2 separate regions of the Homo sapiens genome follow, and region 1 is linked to region 2. A link means that fine-mapping ties the variant in region 2 to the expression of a gene that starts in the linked region. Tissue or cell type: transverse colon. Region 2 holds a variant in brackets; the other region holds the start of a gene. All regions are shown on one strand. Distances are between the middles of the regions. Region 1 holds the start of NAT8 (N-acetyltransferase 8 (putative)). Region 2 has its middle 25 kb from the start of NAT8.

Evidence for each region. PIP is the estimated chance that this variant, and not a neighbour inherited with it, causes the effect.
Region 1: NAT8 starts here. The variant in region 2 is the best candidate, but not a certain one, in a credible set for the expression of NAT8 in transverse colon (GTEx, PIP 0.69).

What each region holds. Positions count from the first base shown.
Region 1 is chr2:73,640,087-73,645,294 of GRCh38, reverse strand. It overlaps NAT8 (N-acetyltransferase 8 (putative)), which reads left to right and starts at 2,873. Exons shown (of 2, transcript NM_003960.4): 1 at 2,873-2,977; 2 at 3,593-4,572. The coding sequence starts at 3,667. The coding sequence ends at 4,350. It also overlaps the pseudogene ALMS1P1.
Region 2 is chr2:73,664,661-73,669,868 of GRCh38, reverse strand. It overlaps the pseudogene ALMS1P1. Among named protein-coding and RNA genes, the nearest start is that of NAT8, 25 kb to the right of the region's middle. The variant C/T (reference allele first, on the strand shown) is at 3,179.

The DNA of each region.
Region 1 (5,208 bases), 25 kb after region 2:
AAATTCAGCAAAGTCTCAGGATACAAAATCAATGTGCAAAAATCACAAGTACACCAATAAAAGACAGAGAGCCAAATCATGAGTGAACTCCCATTCACAATTGCTTCAAAGAGAATAAAATACCTAGGAATCCAACTCACAAGGGATGTGAAGGACGTCTTCAAGGAGAACTAAGTCCTAACTGTCAAGTTCACCTTCCTAACAAAGTTATTCCGGATGTGATGTCTCCACCATCGTCCTGGTCCCAGAGCCCCATCAGGTGTGTCCTCCTGGGCAGCAGCCTCGCTTCTGACATCTGGTGCCTTCATGCCAAGTCCAGGCACAGCACATAACAAGCCTTCGGCCACTGTTTGTTGAATGAATAAATGAATCTTTCAGGTCCGACAAGGAAAGCCCAGGCTTTTATCAGGAAAGCTACAAAAATGCAGAAGTCACAGTAAATCCTGGGAGCAAGAGACGCCTGAATGTCAAGTGAGGTCGCTGTGTTTTGAGGAAGCCACAGCCACGGGTGAGCATGGAGGGAGAGACAGCACACAGGGACGGAGCACAAACCTCTCCCCCTCCACGTGACCGGCAGGTTTCTGACTGAATATTGGTTAGACTCACACTAGAAGTACTCAGTGGTGCTTTGGAGCCACCGCTCACCTCTTTTGATTCCTAGGCCAACTCCTGCTTGACACTGAAATGTTGCGAGAACACTCTAAAGATGAGCCATGGACTTCCTGCCCAGACTTGATGCTCCTTAGACTTTTCCTCGGAGGTGGTGTTGGGTACCAAAGATCTGGAATCTCAGCAGCCTCCACTGGCTGGCCCTGGGTTCCTGCTGCTGACTCCCAGCTTCTGGTTTCTGCTGAAGAAGGCTGCAGGGCAGCACCTTTAGGGGAAGCCTTGACTTTTCCAGATCTGGGCTCTCTCCAGTGTTTTCCTGAATGCCCCTACCAGAAGCCTGGCTGTCGTCTCTGAGCCCTTCCTCATCCTCCTCCCTGTGTGAATCATTCCAACTCCTGCCATTTCTGCCCCAAATGCACCTCCATACGGCTCATGTCTCACCTTCTTGACTTCCTCCCTCTGGTGAAGCCACTGCTGTCTCATGGGCCTCTGCTAACCCAGGCGGCTTCTTTGTGAACCCAGAGCTAGGCACAGCCTCAAGCCATGCAGCCCACTGGATGCAGAGTTTAGCAGGCAAGCAACGCCTTTGAGCAAATAAGAAAAGGTTGCCTTTTCCTTTGGCCAGTCTCAGTTTCGTGCCATGGCTCATGGCTTGGCAACCAGAGGGAGGCCCAGTTTTAGCTCCCACCAGAGCCTCTGGGCCAGCTGCTCTTGTACAGTGAGCACCTGCATCCCTGTACTGGAGGCCCCGCTCTTGCCTGGATGTGGCATGAGCCTTGAGGGGTAGCTGCTTCCATTCCTACCTCCTCAGATCCATTGTCCACCTGCAGCCAGAGTGATGCTTGCGTGCGCACACACACACACACACACACCTCCTCCCCTCCGTGCATATCAATGTCCTCCCCTTGCTCTTGGAATAGAGTCCAAACTACCTAACCTAGATGACGGGCCCAGCGTGGCTGATCATCAATAGGTTAGCTAATCTTTGGAAGGGAAGTTTCCCTTCAATAGCATGTAAGTTGGTGTGGAAAAGGGCTTTTTCTGTTAGGTTTTGCTTTTGCCTATCTTGTATATGTTGCATCCTTGTAATTGGGCCCCTTGAGATTTCAGCACCACACCATGTTTTAGTGACTGAAATAATGAACATTCTGATCAGACCGTTGCTGGCTTGCACATGTTAACCACTTGCTTTTGGTCCAATATTCCTTGTTCCCACAACATAATGATAAACTGCTCATGTACTGTTTCTTTGTTCAGCAGGAAGACATTCCTTCAGGGTCAGGAAAAGTTTGCAGAATGAATGAATGCCTTGAAGGACACTGTGACCAGCTGCTGACACTGAGAAGCCTGGTTGCACAAGGTGTTATCTCAGACTGAGGAAACACAGACTTTTCCTCTCAATCCCCCTGAACTCCCCCTTCCTCACTCTCTAGCTGCATAAAAACATTCTGCTGCTGCTTCTTTGTTGAACTGAAGTTGAGAGATCTTGCTCTCCTGCCTTCTTGCTTTGGCCAAATCGAATACAACTTTCTCTATCTCCAAGCACCCATGTGTCAGTGTTTGGGATCAGCTCCACGTCGGGTACAAGAGCATGAATTTGGGCCTCCCCAACATCTGCAGTGCAAAATATTTAACAACGGGTGTGGCACAGCCTCTGACCAACAGCCAGAACACACACAAGCCACACACAGCCATGCCTGTCAAGCCGAATGTCAACCTTGCTCATGGCTGAAATGACCCCAGGACACAGGAAGTGCATGACACACAACTGTTGACTGAATCAATGAATGGGTGGAGATGGGGGTTGGTGAGGTGAGTGCAAGGAACTGCCAACAACAGATGCTTCGTGGACCAGGGAAACCTCAGCGAGGAGAAGCCTAGCTGGGAAGGGCCTTGTTGCCAAGCATGGGGACTCGGCTTCTGGCCAATGGTGACTGATTGCAGGGTGAATGGTACAGTTCTCAGGCTCGTCGTATATGTGTACAAGGACCAGGGTGGATCGTATATGTGGACAGGGACCGAGAGTACTAAGTGTGCCAGGTGGCAGAGAGATGCACGGGGCCTGAACAGGCAAGAGAGGTGGCAGGCCTTCCAGAAGGGCAAGGAACCCAGGCGGTTCCAGACCCTGAGTCTCCCCCTCCAGGTCGTTCCCTTTGACCACAAAGAGGAATGCACACTGGGCTCCCTGCTGTGTTACAGCCCAGCTCTTTGACCCTAGGGTTGATGATTACCAAACATTCAGGAGCCAAGCAATAAGGCAGGCAGTCTACTTTCCAGGGGTGAGCAAGCCCCAGACGGTATCTCCTGGATGCCAGTGAGCGGCTGAGAGCTGAAGCTCCCTGGACACTCAAGGCTCTTGTGGTGACAGGTGAGGGGACTGGGTGGAAGGACAGTGCTCTGAGCATGCACCTTCCTTGGGATCTGGAGGCTGGGCTGTTTTTTATGCTTGGCTCTTATGCCACTTCAGCAACCTAAAAACTTACAATAAAGCTGGAGGGAGCCTTTCCTGAAACTTGTGTTGGACAGAGAATTTTTGCGATGTATGGTCCCTGGAGAAGGACAAAAGGGTTGCACGTGTGGCCTGCCTGAGGTAGGTGCCCCCTCAATGCACGGAGAAGCTGAGAGAGCCAGAAAAAGGAAACAGAAAAAGGAAGAGCGGTGGGTAGTTCATCTACCAGGGCTTTATAGAAGGCATCTTATTCAATCTTCAAAACAACTCTAGAAGGCAGGTTTTCTTCTCCCCTGTTCTATAGTTGAAGAAATGGAGGCTCAGAGAGGTTAAGTGACATGCCTAAGGTCACACAGCTAGAAAGGGATGGAACCAGATTCCAATGCAGGTCTTTCTGACCCTACCTTCTCCCAGTGGCAGAGGCCTGCTTCCTCATGGGCAAACGCGGAAAGACACACCCTTGAGCAGGTCTCCCTGTTCCTGCAAGGCTGGGAGCCATGCAGGCACTCACATGATTTTCTCTCTCTTCCCCAGTCTGACGTAAAGGCGTGCAGGGAGGCCTAGCTCTGTCTCCTGGACTTAGAGATTTCAGACACAGAAGTCTGTCCATGGCTCCTTGTCACATCCGCAAATACCAGGAGAGCGACCGCCAGTGGGTTGTGGGCTTGCTCTCCCGGGGGATGGCCGAGCATGCCCCAGCCACCTTCCGGCAATTGCTGAAGCTGCCTCGAACCCTCATACTCTTACTTGGGGGGCCCCTCGCCCTACTCCTGGTCTCTGGATCCTGGCTTCTAGCCCTCGTGTTCAGCATCAGCCTCTTCCCTGCCCTGTGGTTCCTTGCCAAAAAACCCTGGACGGAGTATGTGGACATGACATTGTGCACAGACATGTCTGACATTACCAAATCCTACCTGAGTGAGCGTGGCTCCTGCTTCTGGGTGGCTGAGTCTGAAGAGAAGGTGGTGGGCATGGTAGGAGCTCTGCCTGTTGATGATCCCACCTTGAGGGAGAAGCGGTTGCAGCTGTTTCATCTCTTTGTGGACAGTGAGCACCGTCGTCAGGGGATAGCAAAAGCCCTGGTCAGGACTGTCCTCCAGTTTGCCCGGGACCAGGGCTACAGTGAAGTTATCCTGGACACCGGCACCATCCAGCTCTCTGCTATGGCCCTCTACCAGAGCATGGGCTTCAAGAAGACGGGCCAGTCCTTCTTCTGTGTGTGGGCCAGGCTAGTGGCTCTTCATACAGTTCATTTCATCTACCACCTCCCTTCTTCTAAGGTAGGGAGTCTGTGATCTCTTTCTGTGTGTATTGGTCAGAATAGAATCCATTCAGCTGTAGCAGCAAGCAATCCCCAACCTTTCACTGCAATGACCTTTCAATGCAATAAAAGCTTATTGTCCATTCACATCTGAGTCCCATGTGATTGCTTGTGGGGTAGCTTCTGGGTTTCTGCTTCATTCAGTCTTTTTGATTCCCATCTGTTTCATTTTTCTAGTGCCAGCATAATGTTGCATAAGAACAACCACCAAATGAAACAAATATTTATTTAGTTCATGAGTCTGAAGTCAGCAATTTTGCCTGAGCTTGGCTGGGCAGTTCCTCTGGTGTCAGACTGCATTGTACAAATGCAGTGGGATTGGCTGAAAGACTAGGTCAATGGTGCTGTTTCGTTTTCCCACAGGCTACCTCAGGCATGGTTTCAAGGAAATTGCAGAGGAGCAAAAACAAAAGCAGAAACAAACAAATGTGTTTTCAAACCCCTGCATGTGTTGCATCTTCCCCAAACTCAAGGAGAGGAACCTGTCTCTGCAGTGAGAAGGGCTGCAAAGTCACATAGCAAAAGGGTGGAATGCAGCCTCGGGAGAAGAATTGGGGCCAGAGACACAACCAATCCACTCTAACTCCAGGGTCTCTGCAGAGGGAAGAAGGTGGCCTCAGAGGGGAGTGTGGGATTTACCATGGGCTAGACCTGGAAGTAGTATAACTCTTCCAGGGGATCATAACAGAATACCTGAGACTGGGTAATTTATAAGGAAAAGAGGTGTATTTGGTTCATGGTTTTGCAGGCTGTACAAAAAGCACAGTGCAGGCATCTGCTTCTGGTGAGGGCCTCAGGAATCTTTTACTCATGTTGGAAGCTGAAGGGGGAG
Region 2 (5,208 bases):
AAAGCTTCCAGAGGAAGGATCAGGCTGCAACATTTGCTGTACTGCAATATTTGCTGTACTGCAGCCTCCGCTGGTGATACGCAGGTGAACAGGGTCAGGAGTGGAGCTCCAGCAAACTCCAACAGACCTGCAGCTGAGGGTCCTGACTGTTAGAAGGAAAACTAACAAACAGAAAGGACCTCCGCACCAAAACCCCATCTGTACATCACCATCGTCAAAGACCAAAGGTAGATAAAACCACAAACATGGGGAGAAACCAGAGCAGAACAGCTGAAAATTCTAAAAATCAGAGCACCTCTTCCCCTCCAAAGCAACAAAGCTGCTTTCCAGCAATGGAACAAAGCTGGATGGAGAATGACTTTGACGAGTTGACAGAAGTAAGCATCAGATGATTGGTAATAACAAACTTCTCTGAGCAAAAGGAGGATGTTCGAACCCATTGCAAAGAAGCTAAAAACCTTGAAAAAAGATTAGATGAATGGCTAACTAGAATAAACAGCATAGAGAAGACCTTAAATGACCTGATGGAGCTAAAAACCATGGCACGTGAACTATGTGAGAGATGCCCAAGCTTCAGTAGCTGATTCAATCAAGTGGAAGAAAGAGAATCAGTGATTGAAGATCAAATGAATGAAATGAAGTGAGAAGTTTAGAGAAAAAAGAGTAAAAAGAAATGAACAAAGCCTCCAAGAAATATGGGACTATGTGAAAAGACCAAATCTATGTCTGATTGGTGTACCTGAAAGTGATGAGGAGAATGGAACCAAGTTGGAAAACACTCTGCAGGATATTACCCAGGAGAACTTCCCCAGCCTAGCAAGGCAGGCCAACATTCAAATTCAGGAAATACAGAGAATGCCACAAAGATACTCCTCGAGAAAAGCAACTCCAAGACACATAATTGTCAGATTCACCAAAGCTGAAATGAAGGAAAAAATCTTAAGGGCAGCCAGACAGAAAGGTCAGGTTACCCACAAAGGGAAGCCCATCAGACTAACAACTGATCTCTCAGCAGAAACTCTACAAGCCAGAAAGGAGTGGGGGCCAATATTCAACATTCTTAAAGAAAAGAATTTTCAACCTAGAATTTCATATCCAGCCAAACTAAGCTTCATAAGTGAAGGAGAAATAAAATCCTTTACAGACAAACAAATGCTGAGAGATTTTCTCACCACCAGGCCTGTCTCACAAGAGCTCCTGAAGGAAGCACTAAATATGGAAAGGAACAACCGGTACCAGCCACTGCAAACGTATGCCAAATTGTAAAGAACATCAATGCTAGGAAGAAACTCCATCAACTAGCGAGCAAAATAACCAGCTAATATCATAATGACAGGATCAAATTCACACATAACAATATTAGCCTTAAATGTAAATGGCCTAAATGCTCCAATTGAAAGACACAGACTGGCAAATTGGATAAAGAGTCAAGACCCATCAGTATGCTGTATTCAGGAGACCCATCTCATGTGCACAGACACATATAGGCTCAAAATAAAGGCATGGAGGAAGAGCTACCAAGCAAATGGAAAACAAAAAAAGGCAGGGGTTGCAATCCTAGTCTCTGATAAAACAAACTTTAAACCAACAAAGATCAAAAGAGACAAAGAAGGCCATTACATGATGGTAAAAGAATCAATTAAACAAGAAGAGCTAACTATCCTAAATACATATGCACCCAATACAGGAGCACCCAGATTCATAAAGCAAGTCCTTAGAGACCTACAAAGAGACTTAGACTTCCACACAATAATAATTGGAGAATTTAACACCCCACTGTCAACATTAGACAGATCAACGAGACAGAAAGTTAACAAGGATATCCAGGAATTGAACTCAGCTCTGCACCAAGCAGACCTAATAGACATCTATAGAACTCTCCACCCCAAATCAACAGAATATACAGTCTTCTCAGCACCACATCGCACTTATTCCAAAATTGACCACATAGGTGGAAGTAAAGCACTCCTTAGCAAATGTAAAAGAACAGAAATGATAACAAACTGTCTCTCAGACCACAGTGCAACCCAATTAGAACTCAGGATTAAGAAGCTCACTCAAAACCGCTCAACTACATGGAAACTGAACAACCTGCTTCTGAAAGACTACTGGGTACATAACGAAATGAAGGCAGAAATAAAGATGTTCTTTGAAACCAATGAGAACAAAGACACAACATACCAGAATCTCTGGGACACATTTAAAGTAGTGTGTAGAGGGAAATTTATAGCACTAAATGCCCACAAGAGAAAGCAGGAAAGATCTAAAATTGACATCCTAATGTCACAGTTAAAAAAACTAGAGAAGCAACAGCAAATACATTCAAAAGCTAGCAGAAGGCAAGAAATAACTAAGATCAGAGCAGAACTGAAGGAGATAGAGACACAAAAAACCCTTCCAAAAATCAATGAATCCAGGAGCTGGTTTTTTGAAAAGATCAGCAAAATTGATAGACCGCTAGCAAGACTAATAAAGAAGAAAAGAGAGAAGAATCAAATAGATGCAATAAAAAATGATAAAGGGCATATCACCACCGATCCCACAGAAATACAAACTACCATCGGAGAATACTATAAACACCTCTATGTAAATAAACTAGAAAATCTAGAAGAGATGGATAAATTCCTGGACACATACACCCTCCCAAGACTAAACCAGGAAGAAGTTGAATCCTTGAATAGACCAATAACAGGCTCTGAAAATGAGGCAATAATTAATAGCCTATCAACCAAAAAAAGTCCAGGACCAGACAGATTCACAGTTGAATTCTATCAGAGGTACAAAGAGGAGCTGGTACCATTCCTTCTGAAACTATTCCAATCAACAGAAAAAGAGGGAATCCTCCCTAACTCATTTTACAAGGCCAGCATCATCCTGATACCTAGGCCTGGCAGAGACACAACAAAAAAAGAGAATTTTAGACCAATATCCCTGATGAACATTGATGCAAAAATCCTCAATAAAATACTGGAAAACTGAATCCAGCAGCACATCAAAAAGCTTATCCACCATGATCACATTGGCTTCATCCCTGGGATGCAAGGCTGGTTCAACATATGCAAATCAATAAATGTAATCCATCATATACACAGAACCAAAGACAAAAACCACATGATTATCTCAATATATGCAGAAAAGGCCTTCAACAAAATTCAACAGCCCTTCATGTTAAAAACTC[C/T]CAATAAACTAGGTATTGATGGGACATATCTCAAAATAATAAGAGCTGTTTATGGCAAACACACAGCCAATATCATACTGAATGGGCAAAAACTGGAAGCATTCCCTTTGAAAACTGGCACAAGACAGAGATGCCCTCTCACCACTCCTATTCAACACAGTGTTGGAAGTTCTGGCCAGGGCAATCAGGCAGGAGAAAGAAATAAAGGGTATTCAATTAGGAAAAGAGGAAGTCAAATTGTCCCTGTTTGCAGATGACATGATTGTAAATTTAGAAAACTCCATTGCCTCAGCCCCAAATCTCCTTAAGCTGATAAGCAACTTCAGCAAAGTCTCAGGATACAAAATCAATGTGCAAAAATCACAAGCGTTCCTATACACCAATAACAGACAAACAGAGAGCCAAATCATGAGCGAACTCCCATTCACAATTGCTTCAAAGAGAATAAAATACCTAGGAATCCAACTTACAAGGGATGTGAAGGACCTCTTCAAGGGGAACTACAAACCACTGCTCAATGAAATAGAAGAGGACACAAACAAATGGAAGAACATTCCATGCTCATGGATAGGAAGAATCAATATTGTGAAAATGGCCATACTGCCCAAGGTAATTTATAGATTCAATACCATCCCCATCAAGCTACCAACGACTTTCTTCGTAGAATTGGAAAAACCTACTTTAAAGTTCATATGGAATCAAAAAAGAGCCCGCATTGCCAAGACAATCCTAAGCCAAAAGAACAAAGCTGGAGGCATCACGCTACCTGACTTCAAACTATACTACAAGGCTACAGTAACCAAAATAGCATGGTACTGGTAACCAAAACAGAGATATAGACCAATGGAACAGAACAGAGCCCTCAGAAATAATGCCACACATCTACAACCATCTGACCTTTGACAAACCTGATAAAAACAAGAAATGGGGAAAGGATTCCCTATTTAATAAATGGTACTGGGAAAACTGGCTAGACATATATAGAAAGCTGAAACTGGATCCCTTCCTTACAGCTTATACAAAAATTAATTCAAGATGGATTAAAGACTTAAATGTCAGACTTACCACCATAAAAACTCTAGAAGAAAACCTAGGCAATACCATTCAGGACATGGGCATGGGCAAGGACTTCATGACTAAAACACCAAAAGCAATAACAACAAAAGACAAAATAGACAAATGGGATCTAATTAAACCAAAGAGCTTCTGCAGAGCAAAAGAAACCACCATCAGAGTGAACAGGCAACCTACAGAATGGGAGAAAATTTTTACAATCTACCCATCTGACAAAGGGCTAATATCCAGAATCTACAACGAACGTAAACAAATTTACAAGAAATAAATCAAACAACCCCATCAAAACTAGGCAATGGATATGAACAGACACTTCCCAAAAGAAGACATTTATGCAGCCAACAGACACATGAAAAAATGCTCATCATCACTGCCCATCAGAGAAATGCAAATCAAAACCACAATGAGATACCATCTCGCAACAGTTAGAATGGTGATCATTAAAAAGTCAGGAAACAACAGGTGCTGGAGAGGATATGGAGAAATAGGAACACTTTTACACTGTTGTTGGGACTGTAAATTAGTTCAACCATTGTGGAAGACAGTGTGGTGATTCCTCAAGGATCTAGAACTAGAAATACCATTTGACCCAGCCATCCCATTACTGGGTATATACCCAAAGGATTATAAATCATGCTACTATCAAGACACATGCACACGTATATTTATTGTGGCACTACTCACAATAGCAAAGACCTGGAACCAACCCAAATGTCCATCAATGACAGACTGGATTAAGAAAATGTGGCACATATAGACCATGGAATACTATGCAGTGATAAAAAAGGATGAGTTCACGTCCTTTGTAGAGACATGGATGAAGCTGGAAACCATCATTCTGAGCAAACTATCGCAAGGATAGAAAAACAAACACCTATGTCACTCATAGGTGGGAATTGAACAATGAGAACACTTGGACACAGGATGGGGAACATCACACAGTGGGGCCTGTTGTG